Homo sapiens: one gene and its partners. The gene in region 3 interacts genetically with the main gene of each other region. Each region holds a gene or a part of one and is shown on either strand. Other genes may lie near its edges. The genes, in order: EIPR1, RAB1A, VPS54 and ARMH3.

The links.
Region 1: changes in VPS54 (region 3) and EIPR1 are lethal when combined (synthetic lethality), as found in Homo sapiens cells (one study listed by BioGRID).
Region 2: changes in VPS54 (region 3) and RAB1A are lethal when combined (synthetic lethality), as found in Homo sapiens cells (one study listed by BioGRID).
Region 4: changes in VPS54 (region 3) and ARMH3 are lethal when combined (synthetic lethality), as found in Homo sapiens cells (one study listed by BioGRID).

Annotation. Positions count from the first base shown.
Region 1 is NC_000002.12:3,188,467-3,192,848, reverse strand, and holds the end of EIPR1 (EARP and GARP complex-interacting protein 1), read left to right. Parts: intron 1-267; coding exon 268-435; intron 436-3,340; coding exon 3,341-3,515; 3' UTR 3,516-3,879; downstream 3,880-4,382. UniProt on the Homo sapiens protein: Acts as a component of endosomal retrieval machinery that is involved in protein transport from early endosomes to either recycling endosomes or the trans-Golgi network.
Region 2 is NC_000002.12:65,092,087-65,099,119, forward strand, and holds part of RAB1A (ras-related protein Rab-1A), read right to left. Parts: intron 5,981-7,033; coding exon 5,885-5,980; intron 1-5,884. UniProt on the Homo sapiens protein: The small GTPases Rab are key regulators of intracellular membrane trafficking, from the formation of transport vesicles to their fusion with membranes.
Region 3 is NC_000002.12:64,016,396-64,023,871, reverse strand, and holds the start of VPS54 (vacuolar protein sorting-associated protein 54), read left to right. Parts: upstream 1-4,443; 5' UTR 4,444-4,934; intron 4,935-7,476. UniProt on the Homo sapiens protein: Acts as a component of the GARP complex that is involved in retrograde transport from early and late endosomes to the trans-Golgi network (TGN).
Region 4 is NC_000010.11:102,004,163-102,011,195, forward strand, and holds part of ARMH3 (armadillo-like helical domain-containing protein 3), read right to left. Parts: intron 5,862-7,033; coding exon 5,815-5,861; intron 5,288-5,814; coding exon 5,212-5,287; intron 2,472-5,211; coding exon 2,378-2,471; intron 322-2,377; exon of another isoform or gene 204-321; intron 1-203. UniProt on the Homo sapiens protein: Involved in GBF1 recruitment, Golgi maintenance and protein secretion.

The DNA of each region.
Region 1 (4,382 bases), about 61 Mb from region 3:
AAATGTTGCGTGATAAGCCTTCTCCTCCTGTAGGTTTCAGCCAACATTTAGTCTTCCCTGTCTGTCTCTTGGGACTTAAGAGAAACCTGCAGTAAACCCAACCTCAGCGGAAAACTGCCTTATGTCAGGCCCTGTGACTGGGGGCCGATTGCCTGGCAGTGCCTAACGTGAGCCCCAGCCTAGTGGGGCCCTCAGAGCCGGTGTGATCCATTGTTGGTGTTGCCTGCGGGTGACAGTTCATTTCAGCAGCTGCCTTGCCCTTTGCAGGGTGTGGAACGTCCGCTACAACCACTCTCATGACCAGCTGGTCCTCACGGGCAGCAGTGACAGCAGAGTCATCCTTTCCAACATGGTGTCCATCTCGTCGGAGCCCTTCGGCCACTTGGTAGACGACGATGACATCAGTGACCAGGAGGACCACCGTTCTGAAGAGAAGTAAGGGCACGCACTGCAGAGTGGCTCACGCTGTACCAGAGCCTCCTGTCTGCACAGCCATCTCCCGAGCCAGGCTGTGTATGTAGAAAGTTTCCAGGAGTGCATTTGGGGGACACTCTCCTTACCCACTGCAGCTGTGGGGACTCACAGTTCCAGGGGTGCCGTCATTAGCAGCCCAGGTGGGAGGCACTGCAGGTGCGTTAGGGTTAGGTGCGGTTTTAAAATAGATCTATTTGTGTTTGTATTCTTATTGAATGCCATCTGTAAGATTTAAAAGACTCACTGGTCTTCAAACTTGAGCATGAATAATAATAGAACGAATATATCCCAATCCTCACAGCACTCCCTGTAAGAGACGCATCACAGTCAGTGTCTTCACTGGCGTGGATTTGAGCGTGTTGGGGTCGGGTTGTTGGCCATCAGCTCACGGGCCTTCCACTGGCTGGTAGCAGGGCGGAGACTCCAGGCCAACCTTCCCAGTCTCAAACCCGGGTCCTACTTCACTTCTAGATACTCTACAAAATGTGGTCAACCATGATGTGGGTTTTCTAGTCACACCATCATGGTTCTGGATTTTCCCAAAGCTTTTTCCTATGCACCTTGATTTCTGATCCTAGGTGAGATGGGAGATCGCTAAGGGCAGCCTCTTCATGCCCGCCTCTGGTCAGCGGTGCAGTGCCAGGGCCCCTGTGTCCTTGAGCAGTCCACCTTTAGAAGTGGCAGCCGCTTCCTGGGGGGTGACTAGATGCAATTCAGTTGCAACCGCAGAGATTCTTGCCCCAGGTTCCAGAGGAAGGAGGTTCTGGAATAAAACCTTGTGAAGTTGGACAGAGCCCTTAGATACGATGGGGTCTGTCACTCTGTTTTGGGATCCTTTGCACTGTTTTTTGTCTGAATTCTCCCCCTACCCACCTGAGCTTGGTCTAAAATTCCTCTGTGAGAAGACCTCTTTCTTCAGACCCTCTCTGCAGTGGCGATGGGACCATCTGATTGTCTCTGTCTTCGGACCCTCTCTGCAGTGGGGATGGGCCCATCTGATTGTCTCTGTCTTCAGACCCTCTCTGCAGTGGCGATGGGCCCATCTGATTGTCTCTGTCTTCGGACCCTCTCTGCAGTGGCGATGGGCCCATCTGATTGTCTCTGTCTTCAGACCCTCTCTGCAGTGGCGATGGGCCCATCTGATTGTCTCTGTCTTCAGACCCTCTCTGCAGTGGCGATGGGCCCATCTGATTGTCTCTGTCTTTGGACCCTTTCTGCAGTGGCGATGGGCCCATCTGTTTGTCTCTTGACTCTGTTGCCTTTGTTTTGTTTTTGAGACAAACAAAAACAAACAAAAAAGTCACCCAAGCTGGTGTGCAGTGGCACGATCATGGCTCACTGCAGCCTTGACCTCCTGGGCTCAGGTGATCCTCTCACCTCAGCCTCTCAAGTAGCTGAGACAACAGGCCCATGGCACCATGTCTGGCTAACTTTTTGTAGAGACAGAGTTTTGCCATGTTGCCCAAGCTGGTCTCAAACTCCTGAGCTCAAGTGATCTGCCCACTTCAGCCTCCCAAAGTGCTAGGATTACAGGCATGAGCCAGACTCTGTTGTTTTTCTGTTCAAACCTTAGAAACTCGGTCTGCCATAGAATAGTATTTAAGCACACGCACGGTAGCATCTGCCCAGTGGTCTCTCGGTGCCTGTGGGCCTGGCTCCCTTTACCGTCCTCTCTGCCAGTGGCCCAGGGAGTCTGCACTTCCTCACCATGTCTGTCCCTGTTAGGGGAGGAGCCTGATGGGCCCGTTGGTCGGAAGACTGCTGGCGTTGTCTTCTGGGCGGCAATGTCATGGGAGCAAGATAGGAAGGGAGGAGGTGATCGGGGCTACGCAGACTTCTTAGGACATCCCTCAGTCCTGATGTCCTGCTGCATTCAGGAAACCATGATTCCTCCTAAGGATTTGCACCTGGCATTTGTCCCACAACAGCAGTTGACCACTGGCAGGTCCACTTTGTGGGAAGCCAGCTTCCCAGAGACCATGCGAGTTCTGGAGGGTCCGTCTTGCTGGGGGGGTGAAGCATTTTCCTACAAAGAAATGCAAAAGCAGTTAGAATGCGGTACACAAATTATGTGGGAATTTTTTTGTGAAATGGGAAGTAAAGTGCCAGAGAAGCCTGTGTCCACCGGAAAGTGGCCGCTGTGAGCCGGGCAGGGCCCCCTCCCCATGCACGCTGTGCTGAGGAAGTGGTGCTTCTTGTGTGAGGATCCCCTGGTCAGGGCTCCCAGTGAGGGTAACTCACAGTCAAGGGAGGCGAGGTGGGAAACACCCTGGGGGAGGCCAGGCAGGTCACGCCTCTGCTGCTCCCACAGGGCCAGGGCGTCTTCCTCTTGGTGTCCTGGGGGATCCTCAGCCCAGCCCCACTCCCATCCTAGCAAGGCTCCTTGTGCCCCAGCCTCTGACTCCTACACAGCCAGGAGCTGGACCCGCTGCTTCCCAGGGTCCTTTCTGCTCAAGCAATAGGGGCGTTTACATCCTGTGTTACCCAGACACGGTGACTACTTCCCCCAGTCTTTCCCCTGAGCTAAAGGAAGCCCTTGGAAGACCTCCAACAAAATATCAACCCAGGCACCCGGGGGCCAAGGACAGAAGAAACCAAGACACCATGTGCCAATGTCGCCGATTTCCATAAACCTTTTGAGAAATGCCCACTCCTCACAGTGACAGTGAGGGTTTCTGGGCTTCTGCAGGGACCACCCCACCGTCCTCGGTGTGGGCTCCTCTAATTCTTCCCATCCCACAGCGGAGAAAGCTGAGGCCCCAGTACCTCCCGTGTCTCCCGATGTCAGCGCTCGCGTCCTCCCTGCCCCTCTCCTGCCCGCCCCGCCGGAGCTGCTGCGCTCACGTCTGCCTCTGTTGCATTGCAGGAGCAAGGAGCCCCTGCAGGACAACGTGATCGCCACCTACGAGGAGCACGAGGACAGCGTCTATGCCGTGGACTGGTCCTCGGCTGACCCGTGGCTGTTTGCCTCCCTGAGCTATGACGGGAGGCTCGTGATCAACAGGGTGCCCAGGGCCCTGAAGTACCACATCCTGCTATGACTCCCGGGCCTGGGTTATCCAGGTCCCATTGAGTGGTTTTCCTCTTGGCAGATTCTCAAACAGTCGCAGCTCTTTGGAGGTGACTCGTGTTCCAGGTGGATCCCTCTCTGGGAGAGCCGCTGTTCCCTTCCTGTAGCAGCAGCATTTATGAATGGGGTGAATGGGGCTATTGTCGACGGCACAGCTAATGCCCGAACCCAGCCCCTGTCGGCAGAGACAGAGCCCCACATTATTATGTGAATAACAATGTTTTCTGTTTTAAGGGTGTCAGGAGTTTCGCTTTTTAAAAAAATGTCTGTTCCTGCAATAGTAACTCTTCTTTCTCTTGAGAGTAAAAAATGAAATAAAATAAATCCACGCTGCACAGGTGCTCGGCTCATTCTTTCAGGAGCTCTGCCCTGTGACCCCATCTCCTGGGTCTTTGTCCATTTTCTCTTTCCTGACCCAGGGAAAATGCAGATGGACAGACGTGTGCTGTCTACGCCGCCCTAGCATGGAACTCCCGGGAGCCATGCTGGCTGCTGGTGGGCACCTGGCTCGCGCCCTGGGCTGAGCTGGTGTGATGCATTTTCACTGCTGTAGACGCAGGCTCTGCCCGCCCTGGGCCTCCCCTGGTCTCTGCAGCCCATCCTGTGCTGTGTCCTGCCCACCTTGTGAGCCGGGCAGGGCCTCCTCCCCACGCGCACGCACTGGTGGCCTTGGAGGTGCCGTCCTCCCTCACCTCGGAGCTTGGGGTTGGGCTCCCGCGTCTCAGTTGTCGGGGACCCCTCACAGGCTCCTACACTCATCAGTGCTTATCCTTAGGAATCCTCAAACACTGACCTCGCAGCCTCTGTTCGTGGTTCCTTTGGGTGTGCGGGGTCTGTT
Region 2 (7,033 bases), 1.1 Mb from region 3:
ACATGGTGAAACCCTGTCTCTACTAAAAATCCAAAAATTAGCCAAGTATGCTGGCGTGCGCCTGTGGTCCCAGCTACTCGAGAGGCTGAGGCAGAATCGCTTGAGCCCAGGAGGCAGAGGTTGCAGTGAGCTGAGATCACACCACTGCACTCTGGGCAAGAGAGCCAGATCCTGTCTCAAAAAAAGAGAAAAAAAAAAAAAGAGGCTCAAAGTCTTTCAGTGTATCCTTGGAGGAAGCATGAACTCGAGGATCAAGCTACCCTGACTTCAAAACATCAAATCCAGGTTCCTGGTTATTTAATATTAGGGAGAGTCACCTAACAGTTTCTTCATCTGTAAATGCTAGATAGCATTCACCTTGTACAACAGCTAAAGGGGTTTAAATGAACTAATGTTTGTAAAATGTGCCTGACTATAGAAGCTGCTCAATAAAGCAAGTTTCCTTTTCTTCCTTGCTCACCAACCTCTTTCACAAAGATAGAAGGAAAAATTGTTTTTTGACTAAAAGTCAACAAGAAGTTACAGCTGATTAAAGTAAGCAATGGCACCCAAAAAGTAAAATTTCCTTTTTATCCAAAATGGAGGTATTGCTATGTTGCCCAGGCAGATCTTGAACTCCTGGGCTCAAGTGTTCCTCCTGCCTCAGCCTCCAAGTAACTGGGACTACAGGCACTGATATGGTTTGGCTCTGTGTCCCCACCCAAATCTCATCTCAAGTTGTAATCACTGAGGGAAGTGATTGGATTATGGAGAAGTGATTGGATTATGACGACGGTTTCCCCCATTCAAGTGATAGTGAATGAATTCTCACAAGATCTGATGGTCTCATAAGGGGCTCTTCCCCCTTCACTTCCTTCACACTCTCTCGCCTCCTGCCATGTAAGACGTGCCTGCTTCCCTTTCTGCCACAGTAAGTTTCCTGAGGCCTCCTCAGCCATGCAGAACTATGAGTCAATTAAACCTTTTTTTTAATAAATCACCCAGTTTTGGTCAGTTCCTTGTGGCAGTGTGAGAACAGAATAATACATGCACCATGCCTGGCAGAAAGAGTAAAATTTCTGATGTTTCCTTGCTACTCTGAAAACTTTCCTGACACTAAATCCTAACAGTACTAACAATACTTTCCTTCATATGTAATTCTCATTACTCCTCATAATCAGAGTAACTTTTTCCCATGTTTGTCTCTCCCATTGTCTGCCTCCTAATGGACTATGTTTTATTCATCTCTGTAACCTCCAAGTGCCTGGTGTAATGTAGACATTTTCATAAAGCCTCATGAATGAACAATCACAGAAAGAGGCCTTCCATGGTGTACAACTGGACTCAGTACCTGCCCTATCTTGCTGAATGTTTTATAATCTAATAAAACTCAGATAAAGACCCAGATGTCACACCTGAACAGGAAAAGCTGAAAGGAAAAGATAATTAAAATATAAATCAACAGAATCAAGATTTTGAAAAGACCTAGAAAACTTGAAGGATTACTGAAGCCAAGCAAGAGGAAATGATAGGATTAAAAGTAAAATCTTGTGTTTAGATTTTTTTTTTTTTTTTTCAGACGGAGTCTCGCTCTGTCACCAGGCTGGAGTGCAATGGCGCAATCTTGGCTCACTGCAATCTCCGCCTCCTGGGTTCAAGTGATTCCCCTGTCTCAGCCTCCCAAGTAGCTGGGATTACAGGCACCTGCCACCATGCCCAGCTAATTTTTTTGTATTTTTAGTAGAGATGGGCTTCACCATGCTGGCCAGGCTGGTCACGAACTCCTGACCTTGTGATCTGCGTGCCTCTGCCTCCCAAAGTGCTGGGATTACAGGCGTGAGCCACCGTGCCCGGCCTGTGTTTAGATTTTTAAAACACCAGTCACAGAAGTGTAAAGTGAGACCCTCTTCTTTTTTTTTTTTGAAACAAGGTCTCGCTCTGTTGCCCAGGCTAGAGTGCAAATGGCACAATCTTGGCTCACCGCAACCTCCATCTCCGGGCTCAAGCAATCCTCCCACCTCAGCCTCCTGAGTACCTTGAACTACAGGGACACACCACCATGCCTGGCTGAATTTTGTGTTTTTGGTAGAGACAGGGTTTCACCATGTTGCCCATACTGGTCTTGAACTCCTGAACTCAAGAGATCTGCCTGCCTCAGCCTCCCAAAGTACTGGGATTACAGGGGTGAACAACTGCACCTGGCCAAGGCCCCTATTTTAATTAAAAACAAGCAAATCGGCCAGGCGCCGTGGCTCACGACTGTAATCCCAGCACTTTGGGAGGCCAAGGCAGGCGGATCACCTGAGGTCGGGAGTTCGAGACCAGCGTGACCAACATGGAGAAACCCCATCTCTACTAAAAATACAAAATTAGCCCGGCGTGGTGGCACATGCCTGTAATCCCTGCTACTAGGGAGGCTGAGGCAGAAGAATCGCTTGAACCTGGGAGGCGGAGGTTGCAGTGAGCCGAGATCACGCCATTGCACTCCAGTCTGGGCAACAAGAGCGAAACTCCGTCTCAAAAAAAAAAAAAAAGAAAAAAGAAAAAACAAGCAAATCAAAAACCTTAAGACCCAAACTAGAAATAATATAGCTACTGAAACAACAAATGGTTGTCTTTGATTAATAATAAGAAAGGGCCATGAGCCCTTGAAGTTCAAGAGAGAAATTCATTCAGGCTCCAAATCAAGACAGGATTTACCTCATGTGTTATATCTCATACTTGATTTAAGAAATCAAATTTAATAAAAGGCATTTATAAAATGTAAGAATAACCCAAATTGCACAAGGTTCTGAAAATATCATTACAGGAAAGAATGAGGACTTCAGAGGTAGAAGAAAGGTTGTGATAAGATCAATCTGAAGGGCAGGCTTGCCAATAAAAGAGGAATTAATCTGATTCAGGCAGCTCTACAAGGCGGAGGAATAAGAAGAGACAGAAGTAAAAGAAACAGGCTTCAGCTCAATATAAAGAATTAACATGTCTCTAAAAGAATCATGTAGTGAGCTGACCGCTGCACTCTAGCGAGGGAGACAAAGTGAAATTTTTGTCTCAGAAAAAAGAAAAAAAGAAGAATCACTAGGAATAAATAAAAAAAATAACTGGCAACTAGAGGTTTTGTGGTTTTTTTTGTTTTTTTCTGTATGTTTTGCAAAGATGAGGTTTCGCCATGTTGCTCAGGCTGGTCTTAGACCTCCTGAGCTCAGGCAATCTGCCCACCTTGGCCTCCCAAAGTGCTAGGACTATAAGCGTGAACCACGACGCCCGGACAGCCACTGCGCCCAGCCTTATTTTGTTTTTGAGACAGGGTCTCTCACTCTGTCCCCAAAGCTGGGGTGCAATGGTGCAATCTTGCCTCACTGCAGCCTTGAAGTCCTGGGCTCAAACATTCCTCCCACCTCAGTCTCCTGGGGAGCTAGGACTACAGGCATGGACCACCACACCTGGTTACTTTTTTTTTTTTTTTTTTGGTAGAGATAGAGTCTCTATGTTGACCAGGCTGGTCACAGGAGCTATGTTGACTCCTGGCCTCAAGTGACTCTCTGACCTCGGCCTCCCAAAGTGCTGGGATTACAGGCATGAGGCAACATGCCTAGCTGAAGTTATGTGTAAAATGGAACTAGCTATTTCGAAAAAATGGTAAGCTTCTTAAAAATGTTCAAAAACCCAGGCGTGGTGGCTCACGCCTGTAATCCCAGCACTTTGGGAGGCCAAGACGGGTGGATCACTTGAGGTAAGGAGTTTGAGACCAGCCTGGCCAACATGGCGAAATCCCATCTCTACGAAAAATACAAAAATTATCGGAAGGCTGGGCACAGTGGCTCATGCCTGTAATCCCAGCACTTTGGGAAGCCGAGTCAGGCAGATCACGAGGTCAGGAGTTCGAGACCAGCCTAACCAACATGGTGAAACTCTGTCTCTACTAAAAATACAAAAAATTAGCAGGGTGTGGTGGCGCACGCCTGTAATCCCAGCTACTCAGGAGGCTGAGGCAAGAGAACTGCTTGAACCTGGGAGGCGGAGGCTGCAGCGAGCCAAGATTGCACCACTGCACTCCAGCCTGGGCGACAAAGCAAGGCTCCATCTCAAAAAAAAAAAAATTGTCCGGGCATGGTGGTACACACATATAATCCCAGCTATTAGGGAGGCTAAGGCAGGAGAATCACTTGAACCCAGGAGGCGGAGGTTGCAGTGAGCTCAAATCGCGCCACTGCACTCCAGCCTGGGAGACAGAGCAATACTGTATCTCAAAAAATAAAAAAACAAACAAACAAAATGTTCAAAATGAGGCCTTCAGGCATGGAAAAGAAATTCCTATTAAAGATGAAAGACAGACAAAGATGAAAGACAGTGTCCTATAAGATCCCTTCCAGCCACAGGAAAGTAACAAAATATGAATGTTTCACACACGAATACACACCCAAATCTTATAAACACCAATGATCACACATAATACAATTATTCCATACCAGTGCTTTAAAGTACAGTTTTGGGTAGATCTTTATGTGCTCTTTATGGTGCCAAATAAAAGGTTGAGACTGTACTTATATCGTGGGAAAAAATATGGAGGGTAATTTGTTCACTGATTGAAAGTATTTCAAGCTATTTCTGAAAACTAAATCCTTGCAAGTCCTAATTTGACACATCAAGTGTGTTTACTTATATCAATATCCACAGCCACCTATCTTTTGTTAACATACCTTCTTTTCCTCATCAGAGTCATGTAAGAAAAGGGAGCAACTTAACCTATCAAACACCCATTTATCTGGGCATGTCATATCATAAGTAGTATCTATATGCTGCCCAAAAGTTTACAAAGGGCTTTCACACGTATTGTCACATACACAAAGCTATTACAGTTGGTTCTCACAACTAGCTTATAAATTAGTAAATCAGGTGTCATCACACACATTTTAGAAAGGAAACTGGGTCTCAGGGTTACTTCGGCCTTTTCCCCAGAGACACAAACCCATGATTCTCTAACAGGTAAATACTAGAACCAAGACAACAAATCTAAGTCTTCTGACTCCTAATGCAGGACTCCTTCCAATTCCATGTGTCATCAGTTCCATGAAAAGGGGCAGTCACTGGTTTCCTGTGTTTATAGCCTACTTCTTGCTAATAGCCTACTCTGAAAAATACTGAGAGATTTATTTTTTAAAAGACCACAGATATGCCCACACTGACAGGACTCAGACCCATACTGAAGAGGCACAACTGAACTATTATAATTGCCTATATTTAATTGGGGGCTGGGGGTGTAAAGATGGATAAGGGGGATAGGATGGCACAGAGACACAAAATATTGAAGACAGAGCTTCGGTCACTTGGTTCTACCAGTAACTGTAGGCAAGTCATTAAATCTTTCAGCATTCGTTTTTTTGAGCAGTAAAATGAACATGTTACAAAAACTAAGTTCCTTTTTCCAACAAAATTCTGTGTTTCTACAGAGTTGGTGCACACTATCTAATAAAAATACTTAGAACTACATAAGTACTTCTCTTCAACTGAGCCACATATGAAGAATCTCTTCCTAGGGTTCCTTTAATGTTCCATGCACTTAGCACAGTAAAAGACAAACAAAAATGGTCTATAACATTTGCAGTGTAGGACAAGGTAAACTTGAACTTAGATTTCCACTGATAAAAGAAAAAGATGAGGACCAAGTTTGACTTAAAACATGAGTTTCTCTGCTTCATGAATAGAAAATTCAATGAGGCTTAAGTAATCTTGAAAATATTATTTTTAATCTAAGTAATTCTTATTCTACCATTCTATCTTAAGTACATGAATCTTAAGACATTTTACATTCAATTTTGTTAGCATAGTAAATATATACAAAATAACAATACATTACAAATTTACCAAAATAAATTTCAAAAAAATTACTAGCCAAGTCACTTACTATTTGAAGCTTGATTGTTTTCCCGTCTAACTCTATAGTTCTTATTTTGAAATCCACACCAATTGTGCTGATGTAGCTTTCTGTATATGTATCATCCTGAAGGGGGAAATAATTAACAATTAAATGTATTGTTCAGTGGAGCAGATGCAAGTCTAAGTGGAAAAAAAAAAACTGTTGTTCAAGAGTAAATAAAAAAAAAGTTTACTTTTATCTACAGTCCAAATTTATGAATGAAATGTATAAAGTATAACATGCTGACAACAGCCACTCCATCCACTTTCAGTACTTACTTCATATTCTGATTACAAAGCACTACTTAACTGTAGTTTCTTTCCTTAAGATCTCTACAATAGCCATTCTTTATTTTTTCCAAACATCATCTCTTGCCAAATTCTTTACATACATCATATAGAAAAATATTTTATATTTTCAATGATTATGAATAATTTTTCTAATCACTAATCAGCAAAACTCTTGCGACCCACCCACCCAATTTATTCACCACAAAACAACAATTTCACTCCGCTTTTTCTTAGAAGTCAATCTTGCTTCCTAATTATGATTTTTTTTTTTAGATATAATGCACATAACATAAAAGTCACCCTTTTGAAGTGGACAATTCAGTGGTCCTTATACATTCACAAGGTTGCAAACTACAACCACGAATTCCAGGACATTTTCTTCACTCCAGAAAGAACCCGTCTTCACTCCCTGGCAACCACTAATCTACTTTCTCTTTAGATTTGCCAATTTTGGACATTTCGTATAAATGGAATCATAAAATATGTGGCCCTCTGTGTCTGTCTTCCTTCATTTAGCAGAATGTTTTCAAGGTTCATCCATGTTGTACCATGTAACAGTACTTCTTTTTTTTTTTTTTTTTGAGGCAGGATGTTGCTCTGTTGCCCATGCTGGAGTGCAGTGTCATGATCTCAGCTCACTGCAACCTCTGTCTCCCGGGGTCCAAGCAATCCTCATGACTCAGCCACCTGAGTAGTAGGGACTACAGGCGTGCATCACCACGCCTGCCTAATTTTTGTACGTTTAGTAGAGACAGGGTTTCGTGATGATGGTCAGGCTGGTCTCAAACTCCTGACCTCTAGTGATCCCCCTGCCTGAGCCTCTCAAAGTGCTGGGATTACAGGTGTG
Region 3 (7,476 bases):
AAAATAAATGCTGCCAACAACCTGAAGGAGACTGGAAGCAGATTCTTCCTCAGTCAAGCTTTCAGATGACAATACAGGCTGATGGATGCTTTGATTGCAGCCTTGTGAAACCTTAAGCAAAGTTAAGTTGTGCTGAGACTCCTGACTCAAGAAACCATGACATAATAAACGTGTGTTGCTTTAAATTGCTAAATTGGCGATAATTTGTACATACCAATAGAAAACTAATATACCATAGTATCTTGGTTTTTCCCTATGCTTGGGGTGCAGTAAATTCTTAGTAGATTACAGCTGCTATTATTATAATAATCAAAATGGAAATCTGAAATATCGAGGTCAAGAAAAAAGTTAACAGAGAAATTTAACAGAGTTAAATAATTGCTTCCAAAGTAACCAAGCGGCTGGTGTAGAAGACAAAAAGATGATATGTTGAAGACTTGTATATTACTCCCAACAAGTATTGAGTACATTATCATCACCACATAAAATATTATAAATTTTCTAGTGGTGCTTATATCTACATTTAGCTTTAATATCTTACACCATACTCAAAGTAAACTGGAAAGTTTTCCTACATTAAGATAGTCCTATATTACCTATGAAGAAATATCAAAACACAGTTTCAGGTTAGAGTCATATTGTTATAAATTATCATTTATATTTTTATATACTATATATTAGCTGTATCAAAAATTGTAAAATTTTTTAAATTATAAAAACACATATAATTATATATTTATATATATAACATTTAAGAATAGCTCAAATATGATGCATAAAATAATTCAGGACATTATTGGATCCAAACCCTAATGAAACAATTACCAGCTTGACACCTTCAGTTCATTAGTGCATGTAAATCTTGCTTATCAAAGATAGCTTATTTATACTAAACACACAATATAATTACACATATTTAGCTGTAGAGTAGGTTAAGAATGTGGATGGGTTTCCATTGCATAGATTCAAGGTTTGCTATCACAGAAAAAAGAAGCTAGTGCTTCTATCTTACTAAATTGGAAAATTATTTTTCTCATTGTTCATTCTATCAGTGCCCCCTTTCCCCTCTGTATTTATATAGCACGGGAATGTATAGTTTCTATCAAATAAATCATTAGAAAGGCAATGTTCAGGCCGGACATGGTGGCTCACGCCTGTAATCCCAGCACTTGGGGAGGCCGAGGCGGGCAGATCGTGAGGTCAGGAGATCACGACCATCCTGGCTAACACGGTGAAACCCCGTCTCTACTAAAAATACAAAAAATTAGCCAGGCGTGGAGGCGGGCGCCTGTAGTCCCAGCTATATTGGGAGGCTGAGGCAGGAGAATGGTATGAACCTGGGAGGTGGAGCTTGCAGTGAGTCGAGATCGTGCCACTGCACTCTAGCCTGGGTGACAGAGCAAGACTCCATCTCAAAAAAAAAAAAAAGAAAGGCAGTGTTCAGTGATTGAGTAGCTATGTTAACCTTACTACTGCCACCTATACAAATATGCACAGAATACACAGTAAACATAAACATAGCCCTTTTATAGGTGTTATGGCATTAGAAAATTTGCCATTCTCCCTCTAATTAGAACATATAACCTTGATGGACTATCACTTTTCATGTGATTGGTCGGTAACAGATATAATAAATATGCCAAATACAGTGTTAGTGACATGGTAGCTAAATATTTTCTTCCTGATTCCTTTTTTTGAAGGCAATGATGGAATCTTAACTCCTATCCATTTCTTAATTTTGTATTAATTTCTTAATTTTCTATCATCTGTGCTTTCTGGAAATGTACACTAATAATATATCTATACCTATTTATTTGTGATTTGGCTTTTAGCTCTCATACTGACTGAAATGATTCAAGTGATAGCAAGTGAACATAGTAATTAATTTGAAATTTATCTAGGTTTAAATGAAATTGCTTGCCCAGTTTACACACTTTAAAAAAATTTTTGCAAACCTGATCATCAGCATTTACTTTCCTGTTTAGATTCAAGATTATGAATTGTTCTGTGGAAAAGTAAAAGTAAAAGTAAACATTGAGCTGGATCTCTGAAAGAACTAAGCACGACACTCAATGTGTATTTTCTTCCTATGGTATGTTATCAACAGATGGATAATGAGGAAGCAAACCAGACTGTCTTGTTCTAGTGTCTGGGAGACAACTGACGGCTATCATTTAGTCCAAGTGCCAAGTTGGAATCTTTTCTGGAACAAGGTGGGGTATAAACACAAATATTTTTTTAAAGGCCAAACCAGCCAGGCTTAAGGAAGTTTTTGAACTGTTGTTGACTTCCTGAGGGGGGTCAAAATATAAGAATTTGCTAAATCCAATTCCTAGCATAATCTATGAACTGATTCTAGACATAAAGAAAAATTATTTTCCTTTCTGGCCTTAGATAAAACTTGGTTAATCCTCTTGTTAATATTTTCACAGTATAAACACATCTTTTTTAATAAAAAATTTTTAAACTGACAAATAATAATTATATATATTTATAGGATCCAATGTGATGTTTTGATATATGTACACACTGTGGAATAACTAAACCAAGCTAATTAACATATCTTTCACCTCACCTACTTTTTTTTTTTTTTTTAAGAGATGGTGTCTGGCTATGTTGTCCAGGCTGGACTCAAACTGCTAGTTTCAAGGCATCCTTCCACTTCAGCTGAGACTACAAGTGTGGGCCACTGTACCCAGCTTATTTTTTTTATGGTGAGAACATTTAAAATGTACTCTTGGCTGGGCGTGGTGGCTCATGCCTGTAATCCCAGCACTTTGGGAGGCTGAGGCAGGTGGATCACGAGGTCAAGAGTTTGGAGACCAGCCTGGCAAATATGGTGAAACCCCGTCTCTACTAAAAATACAAAAATTAGCTGGGCGTGGTGGTGCGCGCCTGTAGTCCCAGCGGCTCGGGAGGCTGAGGCAGGAGAATTGCTTCAACCTGGGAGGCAGAGGTTGCAGTGAGCCAAGATCATGCCACTGCACTCTGGCCTGGGCAACAGAGCCAGACACAGTCTCAACAAAACAAAACAAAGAAAGTACTCTTTTAGCTATTCTGGAATATTAAATACATTGTTATTAACTGTGGTCATCGTGCTGTGCAATAGATCACTAAAATTTATTCCTCCTACCTGAAACTTTATACCCTTTGACTCACATTTCCCCTTTCCTCATCACCCTTTACCCCCCAGTCTTTGGTAACCACCATTCTACTCTGCTTCTATGTAAACTCATCTGGTTTTATAAGTGATCAGGGATTTAAGAGGACTTCACTCTTTTACAGTTAAATTTATTTCATATTGGGGAATGATTTTCTCACTTTGTTTCTTACATAATTTTAGAGGATTGAACTTAGAAAAATATAATGTAAGAGTTTTCTCTCAACTATTTTTGATGCTTCCTTACTTTTTGTCCTCTTTCCCCAACTTTAGCTCTTTGGTGGGGAAAATATTATTTCATAAAAGTTATGTTTGCAGTTTTCAAAGTGACTTCTTAGAAGTGAAACTTGGATCAACATTTTTTTCAACCCCCCAACTATAAGAGTTACATTTTCACTTTTGATTTGTTAAAACATACTATGTCTTATAAATGCTTGAAATTTATTTTTAGGCAAGAATTTCAACATTGAATAAAATCTTCCCAAAATTAAGTCACAAGCACTCAAAGGATTGAGGATCTTTTTCTTCCTAAAATATATGTGTGTGTGTGTGTGTGTGTGTGTCTTTATATTTATATACTAAGACCTTCCCTTTCTTGTGGACTGTGTTTTATTGGTTTAAAGTTGCAAGTCCTGTGAAACCAGGCTGAAGTCAGAATTAGAAGGTATTAATTATCATACACACTCCAAGTATCTCAGTCAAGTAACAGGAATAACTGATTACAGTGTCTGGGAGGAAGGCCTGGAACTTGGGGAAGACTTGGAGGGGAGGACTGGATGGGGAAAAGGCCTCAATAGAGAGAACTGGGTTGTTGCGGAGGGGTGACCTTTAACCTTTGGAAGGGCATTTACTAGGGAACAGCTGAAAAGCATTTACTTCGAGGGGGTGGGGGAGAGGAGGAATCTCGTGGAAGTATTTGCTTTAATAGGTCCCGGGTGATTTAGGGATGTTTCGAGTCGGTTGGTCTTGGGGGTGGCGAGGGCTACGCTGGAGGGGTCGCGTCCCAGTCCCGGGGAAGGCGGCAGGAGGTTTTCTGGGTGTTCCTGAAAACTGGGAGTTGGGGGGAAGGGTGGTGGGGAAAGTGGAATTCAGCGTGGATTTGTCTGCGTGTAGGACTATTAGAGGAGGCGCAGGGGAGCCACGCGGTGTATTCCCCGCCCCGAGAGAACTCTGGCTGCGCCTGCGACGGGCACGCCGGCCTGCGCCAAGGCCGCTTTCCCCAGGCGGCGGGCGCTCCCCCCGGCCCGGGCCGCGGCCCTCCCGCCCCGGCGGAGCCGCGCGGTGGATTGTGGGCTGGGGGCTGCGGCGGCCTCCGGCGCTGTCTCCCCGCACCCGACCGGGCCGAGCCGGCTGGGCCGGCGGGGTGAGGGAAAGCAGTGGAGTCGGGAGCAGAAGCGCTAGAGGCAGTGGTCGTGGCGCGGCGGCGGCGGCTCCCCTGGAGGCCGGGGATGTGGGAGAGGCGGTGGCAGCAGCGGCGGAGGCGGCGCTGCGGACCCGGGGGAAACTGCTGGCTGACAGGACACCCGGGAGAGACGTGAGGGAGCCGCCGCTGCCACCTCTCACCCCTGAGTGAAGCTGGGCTCGAGAGGGCGGCCCTGTGCTCCCCGGGCCGACTGGCCAGCGGGCGCGGGGCGGGGGCGGGAACCCGGGCTCGGGCCCGGCCGGGCGCCGGGCGGCGGCGGCCGTGGAGCAGCAGCCTCGGTGCGACGTGGAGGGCTGGAGGCGGCGGCGATGCACTAGGCCTCGCTCAGGGCGGCTGCCCCGGGACCCGCAGGTAGGTGTGCCCCGCGGCCCCCCGCGCGTCTCAGCCCACTCTCACCCCGACCTACAGCGGAGAGAGGGACCGAGACCCCACCCCCTCGGCTCTCCTCCCCAGCCCCAAACGGACCGAGTTTCGGTCACAGCTGACCGGCACTGAAGCTTCCATGCTCCTCTCCGCCACTTCCTTTTTTTTTTTTTTTTTTCCTTTTCACTCTCCCTCCGGGATCGGGGCTGGCAGCTGTGTTCCCTGCCTCCTGTCAGCGACCGCAAACGCCGCTCTTGCCCCTCTCTTATCTTTCCGGGATCCCAGCTCTGGAACTTCCATCACCCCCTTAGACGCTGCCCCCAAACTTTCCTTTTCTTTTTCCAGCCAGGCCCTTAGTCCTATTGGATTCTACTGGAATCGTTAAAACATTTGTTTGTTTTTCTCTCCGGGGAAGGCTAACCCAAAGAGTTACTCAGTATTTTGCATTTTGGCAATGTAGCTTGAAATAATTTGTGCAATAATTTTCTTCAGTTCTGCCTCCTTCCATCTCTGCATAGACAGAAAGGGCAGGCCCTCTCTGCCGTTTCTGCTCTCCCGTCGTTGACTTGGGAACTTTGGCTTGCCAATTATAATTAGCCGTTTGGTCTGTTCATGTGTTGAGTTCAAGATGGTATTTTTAGCATTTTGACTGACAGGCGTTTCAAAAAAAAATTTTTTTCTTCTAACCAGCTTTATTTTTTGGTCTTTATTGAGGCTCTTTCGAAGAATTAAATTGTTTGGACTGTTTTTGTTTTTAATTGGCTGTATTTCTGATTTGTCAAATCAAGGGCGGTCTTAATACTAAACGCCTTTAAGTAATACCGTGATAAATTACTTGTAGTATACCGAGAAATATTACTGCGATAACCTAAACTGCAGATTTTGATGTACATTCACTTTTATAAATCCGAAGGGGAGTTCTAATTGGAAAAAGCACCTTCAGAGCCTAAATGATTTCTAAGCAGTTAAATGATGGAACAGAGGGAATGATGGGATTTGTTTGACTGTATTTGTAGTGTAGTCAGAATCGGATTTCCTAGAAATGGATGTTGATGGTTCGTAGTGCTCATCATTGCTTATGATAGGTTACCAGTAGCTGTAATTGATAGTTGTTTGGGACGACAGTAGATGTTTGCGATTTTATTGTAATTTGGCTATTTTTAAATTATGTTCTGATAACTTAAGAATTATTACACTACCAATCTAAGAGGCAGTCTGAGGATCACTTTTTTAAATAAATGAAAAATGTTTTAATGGGTTTTTAAAATAAAGAATGCATCACAACCAAATCGTAAAGACTGTTTTGTTGTTGATATTCGTATATTTTGTTCTTGTAGAAGTATTGTTACTACAGCATTTGGCTTTCTGAAGTGTTTTTGAAATTAGAATTTAATACTAAAAGTTTACTAGGAAAAGGTGATTACTTTTGCATATGCTTATATTTTCTGGAAAGTTAAAATTGATTTCTGGATAAGATAATTTTTTGTGTCAGAATTAAAGTCAATTCCTATATAGCCCATGAAACGGCAAATTTTGCAGAATTTCTTCATCACACTCTTTTTTTTTGTTTCTTTTCTTTTTTTTTTTTTGAGACGGGGTCTTGCTCTGTTGCCCAGGCTGGAGTGCAGTGGCGCTATCTTGGCTCACCGCAACCTCCGCCTACCGGCTTCAAGTGATTCTTCTGCCTCAGTCTCCTGAGTAGCTGGGACTACAGGCGCCCCCACGCCTGGCTGATTTTTGTATTTTTAGTAGAGACGGGGGTTTCACCATATTAGCCAGGCTGGTCTTGAACTCCTGACCTTGTGATCCACCGGCCTCGGCCTCCCAGAGTGCTGGGATTAGAGGTGTGAGCCACCGCCCCGGCCCCGGCCCATCACACTCTTTTTTTTTTTTTTTTTTTTTTTAATCAACAAAAGTTAATTACAATTCCTCTTTCCTGCTCTTTGCTTTTTAAAAACTGCTTTATTGAGATAAAATTAACATACCATAAAATACACCCATTTAAGGTGTACCACTTGGCCGGGTTCAGTGGCTCACACCTGTAATCCCACCACTTTGGGAAGCCTAGTCAGGTAGATCACCTGAGGTCCAGAGTTCGAGACCAGCCTAGCCAACATGGTGAAACCCCGTCTGTACTAAAAATATATAAATTAGCCGGGCATGGGGGTGAGCGCCTGTCATCCCAGCTACTGGGGAGGCTGAGGCTGGCGAATCGCTTGAACCTGGGAGGTGGAGGTTGCAGTGAGCCAAGATAGCACCACTGCACTACAGGCTGGGTGACAGAACGAGACTCCATCTCAAAAAAAAAAAAAAAATATACAATTCAGTGGTTTTTAGATTAAATAATTGTGCAACCATCACCATAATCTAATTTTAGAACATTTTCATCATTCCCTCAAAAAACCTTTATCCATTAACAGTTACTCCCCATTCTCTTCACCCCACCCCCAGCTTTAGGCAACCACTAGTCTACTTTCTGTCTCAATATTGGCCTAATGTGGGCCTTTCATATAATGCTTCTTGGCTCATA
Region 4 (7,033 bases), on a different chromosome or scaffold from region 3:
CAAATGTTATAGCTAAACTGCCGGCTTTTAAAAATATGGCTCTGGTGACATACCTTTAAATATAAGTGGGCTACTGAACACCACTATAATTAAGATCTAAAAATTAAAAACAAGGTTGTAATACTTAGGAACCCTACAGAAGGAAATGAGTTAGGAGACAGGGAAAAGAACAAATAGAACAGAGACAGAATAAAATCCCTCACAAATTAAAATCTTCTTCCTAAGGAAGAGTCATTCCTTGATCTTTGGCTTCATAATTCTTCCCAGCAGCTTTTGTCAAGGGAGACAGTCATTTGAAAGTGGGCTGACTTGATCTTCCCACTAGAAAAAATAAAAGCTCACTGGTTGTAGGTAAGTAAGCACAAATCCTACCATTGCATAATCAAGTGTGTGGGTGGAAGTGTTCACAATGAACAGTTTGAAAGGCAGTTCTCTGAAGCATCCAAACCCCAACATCACATGGAACTCATATATATATATATGGCTTTTGATATCCATGGTAACCAGGCAGGGTTCATTCTTAAAGAGAAAGTACTGTATTTCCATTGGGTTATTCTGTGGCCTGAATAAACAGAGACAAGTAGGCAATCCTTACTACTTGCTCCTTCTCAGTAAGATATTTTGGGGCTGGGCATGGTGGCTCATGGGTGTAATCCCAGCACTTTGGGAGCCCGAGGCAGGCGGATCACCTGAGGTCAGGAGTTCGGGACCAGCCTGGCCAATACAGTGAAACCCCATCTCTACTAAAAATACAAAAATTGGCCAGGCGTGGTGGCTCACGCCTGTAATCCCAGCACTTTGGGAGGCCGAGGCAGGCGGATCACGAGGTCAGGAGATCGAGATCATCCTGGCTAACACTGTGAAACCCCATCTCTACTAAAAATACAAAAAATTAGCCGGGCATGGTGGCACACACCTGTAGTCCCAGGGAGGCTGAGGCAGGAGAATCACTTGAACCTGGGAGGTGGAGGTTGCGGTGAGCTGAGATCGCACCCCTGCACTCCAGCCTAGGCAACAGTGCGAGACTCCGTCTCAAAAACAAATAAATAAATAAAAATAAACATACAAAAATTAGCCGGGCATTGTGGTACATGCCTGTAATCTCAGCTACTCAGAAGGCTGAGGCATGAGAATCGCCTGAATCTGGGAGGCAGAGGTTGCAGTGAGCCGAGATCACACTACCACACTCTAGCCTAAATGACAGCAAGACTCTGTCTCAAAAAAAAAAAAAAAAAAAAAAAGATATTTTGGGATTTGGCTTTCAATTCTAAACAGATCCAATTTGCTACCATATATATAACTAACAATGGCACCTCCCTGTCATAGTTCTGTACTGTTTATACTGCCTGGAAATGTTACTGCCACGGGTGGTATATGAAAACTTAAAGGAGAGAAAGAATAAAGAAGGTCATTTCACGTACAAACAGTGGGGAGGCAAAAAGAAAGTATCAAAGTTGGATTGTCTGTACTTCTTTACCAAAACAAGGTCAATCTTTGAGCTACAACATCAAATATTAACATAGATTGTTTTTAGGTTACAATATTCCACCAAACACACTCAGCCTATAATAGACCTCAAAATTTTTGGCAAAAATTCATAATTTCTTTTCTGTTGCCTTTTTCTTAGGTTCCAGCCATAAGATTTATGAAGGGGAAATTTTCACCGTTGTTGTCTTGAGGGAGATAAATCTTACGTATCCACCAAACTCCCAATTATAATACACTCAAAGCCTGTCCTTTCCAACTGGGAGTGGCTGATAGACACATAACAGTGAGTGAGTGCCAGGTTCACATTCTCATTCATTTATTCAACAAATATTTATTAAGCAAGTACCATGCTGGGCACTATGCTAGGCATTTAGTAGTAAACAAAATAGACAAGATCCTGCTTACATGTTTGGGTTCTCAGTCTCTACTCTCACTAATCTTAGGCAAACTGCTTCATTTCTCTGGCCTTAATTCCCTCATTGATCAAATGGTAACATCAGATAACATTACTATTTTACATTCATTTCAGTGCTTTATAATCACAAGGTGACATTTTTCACAAAATATCTCATCTGAGCCTCACAAGGACTCTGAGAGTGTGGCAGGACAGGCATTACTGACCTTGCAGGTCTAGCACTCCATGCCTCTACAACTACTCCCTGAGGAGGAAAAGCTAGAGTTATGTAAGCTTCTTTTACAGAGAAAATCACTGGACTGTCTTTTTCCAAAGTTTTCTTTGGAAATTTAGGAGGCCTGAAGGATAGTACTACAGACCAATTTAGTGGGAAAAATTAACAACTACGTAGGTTCTTTGTTGAACACAGCTATGCTCACTCTGAGAGATCTAAGATCATATTAACCAAGAAAAACAAAGTGGTGGTGGGCTCACCATCAGAGGAAGGCGGTGTGGTCCCAAGTGGTGTGACTGGGGTTGTAGGAGCAGGACTGACAGGGGTCGTCACCAAGCCCATTTCTGGATGGCTCTGAAAAAGATACACAGATGTGTAAGAAAACAGAAAATCCAGTTCTCCCTGAGTATCAAGTGCCTAATACCAATAAGGACTGGTATTCTGGACCTTATAATTTTTTTTTTTTGAGACAGCATCTTGCTATGTTGTCCAAGCTGGTCTCGAAATCCTAGGCTCAAGCACTCTCCTGCCTCAGCCTCCTGTGTACGTAGGACTACAGATGCATGCCACTGTGCCCCTAGTCTCATAATTAGAAAGCTCACTGAGGCTGGGCACAGTGGATCACACCCATAATCCCAGCACTTAGGGAGGCCTGGGCAGATCACAAGGTCAGGAGATCGAGACCATCCTGGCCAACACGGTGAAACCCCGTCTCTACTAAAATACAAAAAATTAGCCAGGCATGGTGGTGCATGCCTGTAGTCCCAACTACTTGGAAGGCTGAGGCAGGAGAATCACTTGAACCCAGGAGGCGGAGGTTGCAGTGAGGTGATATCACGCCACTGCACTCCAGCCTGGTGACACAGCAAGACTCTATCTCAAAAAAAAAAAAAAAAAAAGAAAAAAAAAGCTGAGAAGGGACTACTTCTGTATTTCGTTCTCATGAGTACTTGATTACGACTGATGCTTGCTAATCTCTAATAAGCTCTGTGTGCTAATTTATCTTAAGCAACTAGGTTCCCATTACATAAGTTTTTCTGTGGCACCACAGACATTTAAAAAAAAAAAAAAAAACTGGGGTCAACAAATATACAGGATTATTCTACAAGAGAGCAGAGAACATTTGCAATCCCATCCAGACCTGGGATCTCATCAGATCAACCTAAAACACATCAATAGGCTGTTCTGATAACCAAATAATTGACTAGCAGATGTAGATGAGTCAAGGGGATACCAGGTACTATAAAAAGAGCTATTCAGCCGGGTGCGGTGGCTCACACCAGTAATCCCAGCACTTTTGGGAGGCCGAGGCAGATGGACCACGAGGTCAGGGGATCAAGACCATCCTGGCTAACACAGTGAAACTCTGTCTCTACTAAAAAAAAAAAAAAAAAAAAAAAAAAATTAGCCAGGTGTGGTGGCAGGCACCTGTAGTCCCAGCTACTCGGGAGGCTGAGGCAGGAGAATGGCGTGAACCCGGGAGGCAGAGCTTGCAGTGAGCAGAGATCGTGCCACTGCACTCCAGCCTGGGTGACAGAGCGAGACACCATCTCCAAAAAAAAAAAAAAAAAAAAAAAGCAAAAGAGCTATTCAGATGGCGGCCTTCCTGTTCCACAACAAACAAAAGTGTGTGTGCCTTCATTGGGAGGCAAAGACATGGTGAGACACCCAGTAGGGACCAAAACAGATGACTCTTCTGTCCCTAACCTTTCTTAGCCATCCCTCCCACATCAGCTCTTGAGAATTAAGCTGAGTGATAGCTGTTTTTAACTTCCCTTTTCTTCCCTAACAGCTTTACCAGCACTTTACCTTCCTCACCTCTTCCTTTACAATCAGTTATAGGATTTGGAGAGCAGATAAGAAACGAGTGAAAATAATAACTAAAGTCTCTATGTTATCAGTCATGAAAACTCTTAAGTGTTCTATGAAGCAGATCTCAAACCAGCATGATGCTTTTTAAGCATGACCTTATTTTTGTGTTAAAATTCAAATCAATAGATTCCATATACATCTACCCTTTGAGAAAAAGCATAAGCAAACTTTCCCTTAAAATAACCCTACATACATATTTTAAACAGTCTGGCTTTAAGATAATAACACTTTATCAATTTTTTAAAATGGCTTTCATGGACAGCTCTTGAGTTCTTGGTCTACTTTAGTCCTCTTCTATGCCAATTACTGTGGCTATCCCTCAGGCATGTGACCCATCGCTCAGTATTCTGGGGGTATTTTTGTTTGTTTTTTTATTTTGTTTTATTTTGTTATGTTTTGTTTTTATTTTATTTTTTTTTGAGACAGAGTCTCACTCTGTCACCCAGGCTGGAGTGCAATGGCGCGACTTCGGCTCACTGCAAGCTCTGCCTCCTGGGTTCACGTCATTCTCCTGCCTCAGCCTCCCAAGTAGCTGGGACTACAGGCGTCCGCCACCACGCCCAGCTATTTTTTTTTTAATTTTTTTTTTATTTTTAGAAGAGACAGGGTTTCACCGTGTTAGCCAGGATGGTCTTGATCTCCTGACCTTGTGATCCGCCCACCTCAGCCTCCCAAAGTGCTGGGATTACAGGCGTGAGCCACAGCGCAGGGCCCAGCGCTCAGTATTCTATGACTTCCTTTCAATGTATGTAAACCACGTTATCTGTTAACAGCTAACCTTAACCTGGCCAGGATATTTTTTACTTTTTTCCTCTGGAAATTGGTGAGATAATAAGGTGAGTGGCTTGGCCTATTTTATCTCCAGTTGTAATTCCACAGTGGTGTGGAAAGCAGAAAGCCCAATATAAAAATCCACATAGCGGATAATACCAGGGATTTCTAGTGAGCAAAATGAAGTCATGACAATTCATTTGGGTTAACAGGATCAATAAATTGGCCAAAAAAACTAACTTTGCACGTTATTAGACCCATTTCAGCACCAATGGAAACATACATATTTGAGGACAGCAGGAAACAAAGGCAACTGATTCAACTCCTTGTTACTACCACTTACCAATGCAAAGCAGGGTTTAAACAAGTACAGCCAGATAGGCTTTTCAATGGAATTAATCGGTATGAAATTTAGAGAGAAAAAAACACTGGGATTTTTAATGTGACCAACCTGAGCTAATACTGTGATGAAGTTGCGATTTAAATGAACAGCTTCATAAAGTGCCAGAAGAATGGCCTCATTGGTTCTAAAGAAAAAGAGAACAAATTGGAGCAGTTTTTATAGTGGGGGGAGTTAAAACAGTATAACCATGAAGATAAGATTGGATTGCACCCCAGCGCCTCATTATCAATTCCTTTGCATTTCTAAAGTTCCCCTTTACTTGCCATTTGGGCGTATGCAAAAGTGTATAGGCAGGAGTCAGGGCCTTCACTTTAATTCCTTAGGACCAGTTCTCATCTACTTCATTATCTTCCCTCTGTTTTTCCACCTCAACCCAGTTAAGTCCTCAACTGGCTCAGACACCCATCCCTCTTTTGTTTCATTGCAGAGATAGTCTGGCAACAGTTGTTCAGCTTATTGTCGCTCAATACATATGAAAAGCAGAAATTTCTAAGGGTCCATTAATGTTCAAAACCCATGAAACATTTGAAAATCACCAAAAAAGTATGATTCTGTAAAAGATTAGCAAGAGGTAACACTGCACACTCTCATATCCAGCAGGACAGCCCACACTAAAGTCCAAGTCACTGCACAAGAATGTCAGGCACTTACTGTACTGAGATTTTCTCATGGGCATCTGCTATGAACATGCTGCCCACCTGTGGAAGAAAAGGGGAATTGCAAACTTATAGCAGGAGGATATGAGAGGAGCTTTATGCCTAGGAAGCCTTTTATCAGTGAAGAAAACAAGCTGCTTCCACCTGGGGAGAACTTGGAACTCTAGGCCATAAGTCACACACACCAAAACCAGCCCACTTTGAAAATCTTAAAAGACTCATAAGTAATAAATGAAATAATGAGAATCCTACTAAATCATCTTGCCTAGTAAATCATCTTGCCTACTAAATCACCTCGCTTTAAAGAAAAAGCCTAGTACTTTTGTCCAACTCTCCTTTTCAGTGTGTAAGTTTAGTCCCTCTGACAGTTAACCTACACATCTTCATCACTCTGTATCTTTCCTAGAAGTTGCTTATTTGAAGTCAGAAACTAACTTAGGAAAAACTTCACAGGAAGCAGGCTGACTTCAACCAACATAAAGCTATCTTTGGGAACAATATTCAGGTTTCAGACCAAAGCTGTCTATATGAGATCCACTCTCCATTTTTCAGATAACAAAATCTTTAGTTTGTGTCCTAGTCAGAGCAAGTGAATAAGTAAATGGAGTAGGCTGCCTCTAATGTGTATGATATCAGAAGCACTAAGATGCCTACACCCACTAAAAAATACCTCTTCCACCTCCTTAATTATGCTTGAAACTATACACAAACCTATGCTCCTAGAGCTTCATGTGTTTGGTACAAAACTTTCTGAAAACTTGACTGAAAGGCAGAGATATCTGGGAGCAGTATAATTGTATCTAATTCATTTCATCAAACACCAGTACAAAACTCATACTTCTCTAGCCCCTGAGAGACTTCACTCATTTACATTTTGGAGTTAAAGAGTTTATCAGGCCCCTTCCTGAGAACAGGCTGAGAAGGCAGAAGGAACAATTCGTAAGCAGTGGAGGAAAAAGAATTGCAGAAGTGGAGGAGGAGAGGGGGCAACTACTTCTTGCAACTAACCAAAAAATTGTCTTGCCCTAGAGCTGAATACTTGGATAATAATGCCCGAAAGACAGACTTTCTGAATCTGCCTAGATTCTAGAATCTCCTAGATTTATCTCTTCAAAATCAGTCCCAGATTATCTGGTACCAAATGCCAAGAAACCTTGCCCTGGAGTCTTGCCAGCTGGACCAATAACTTCCCTAAAATTCAGACCTCTAAGCCC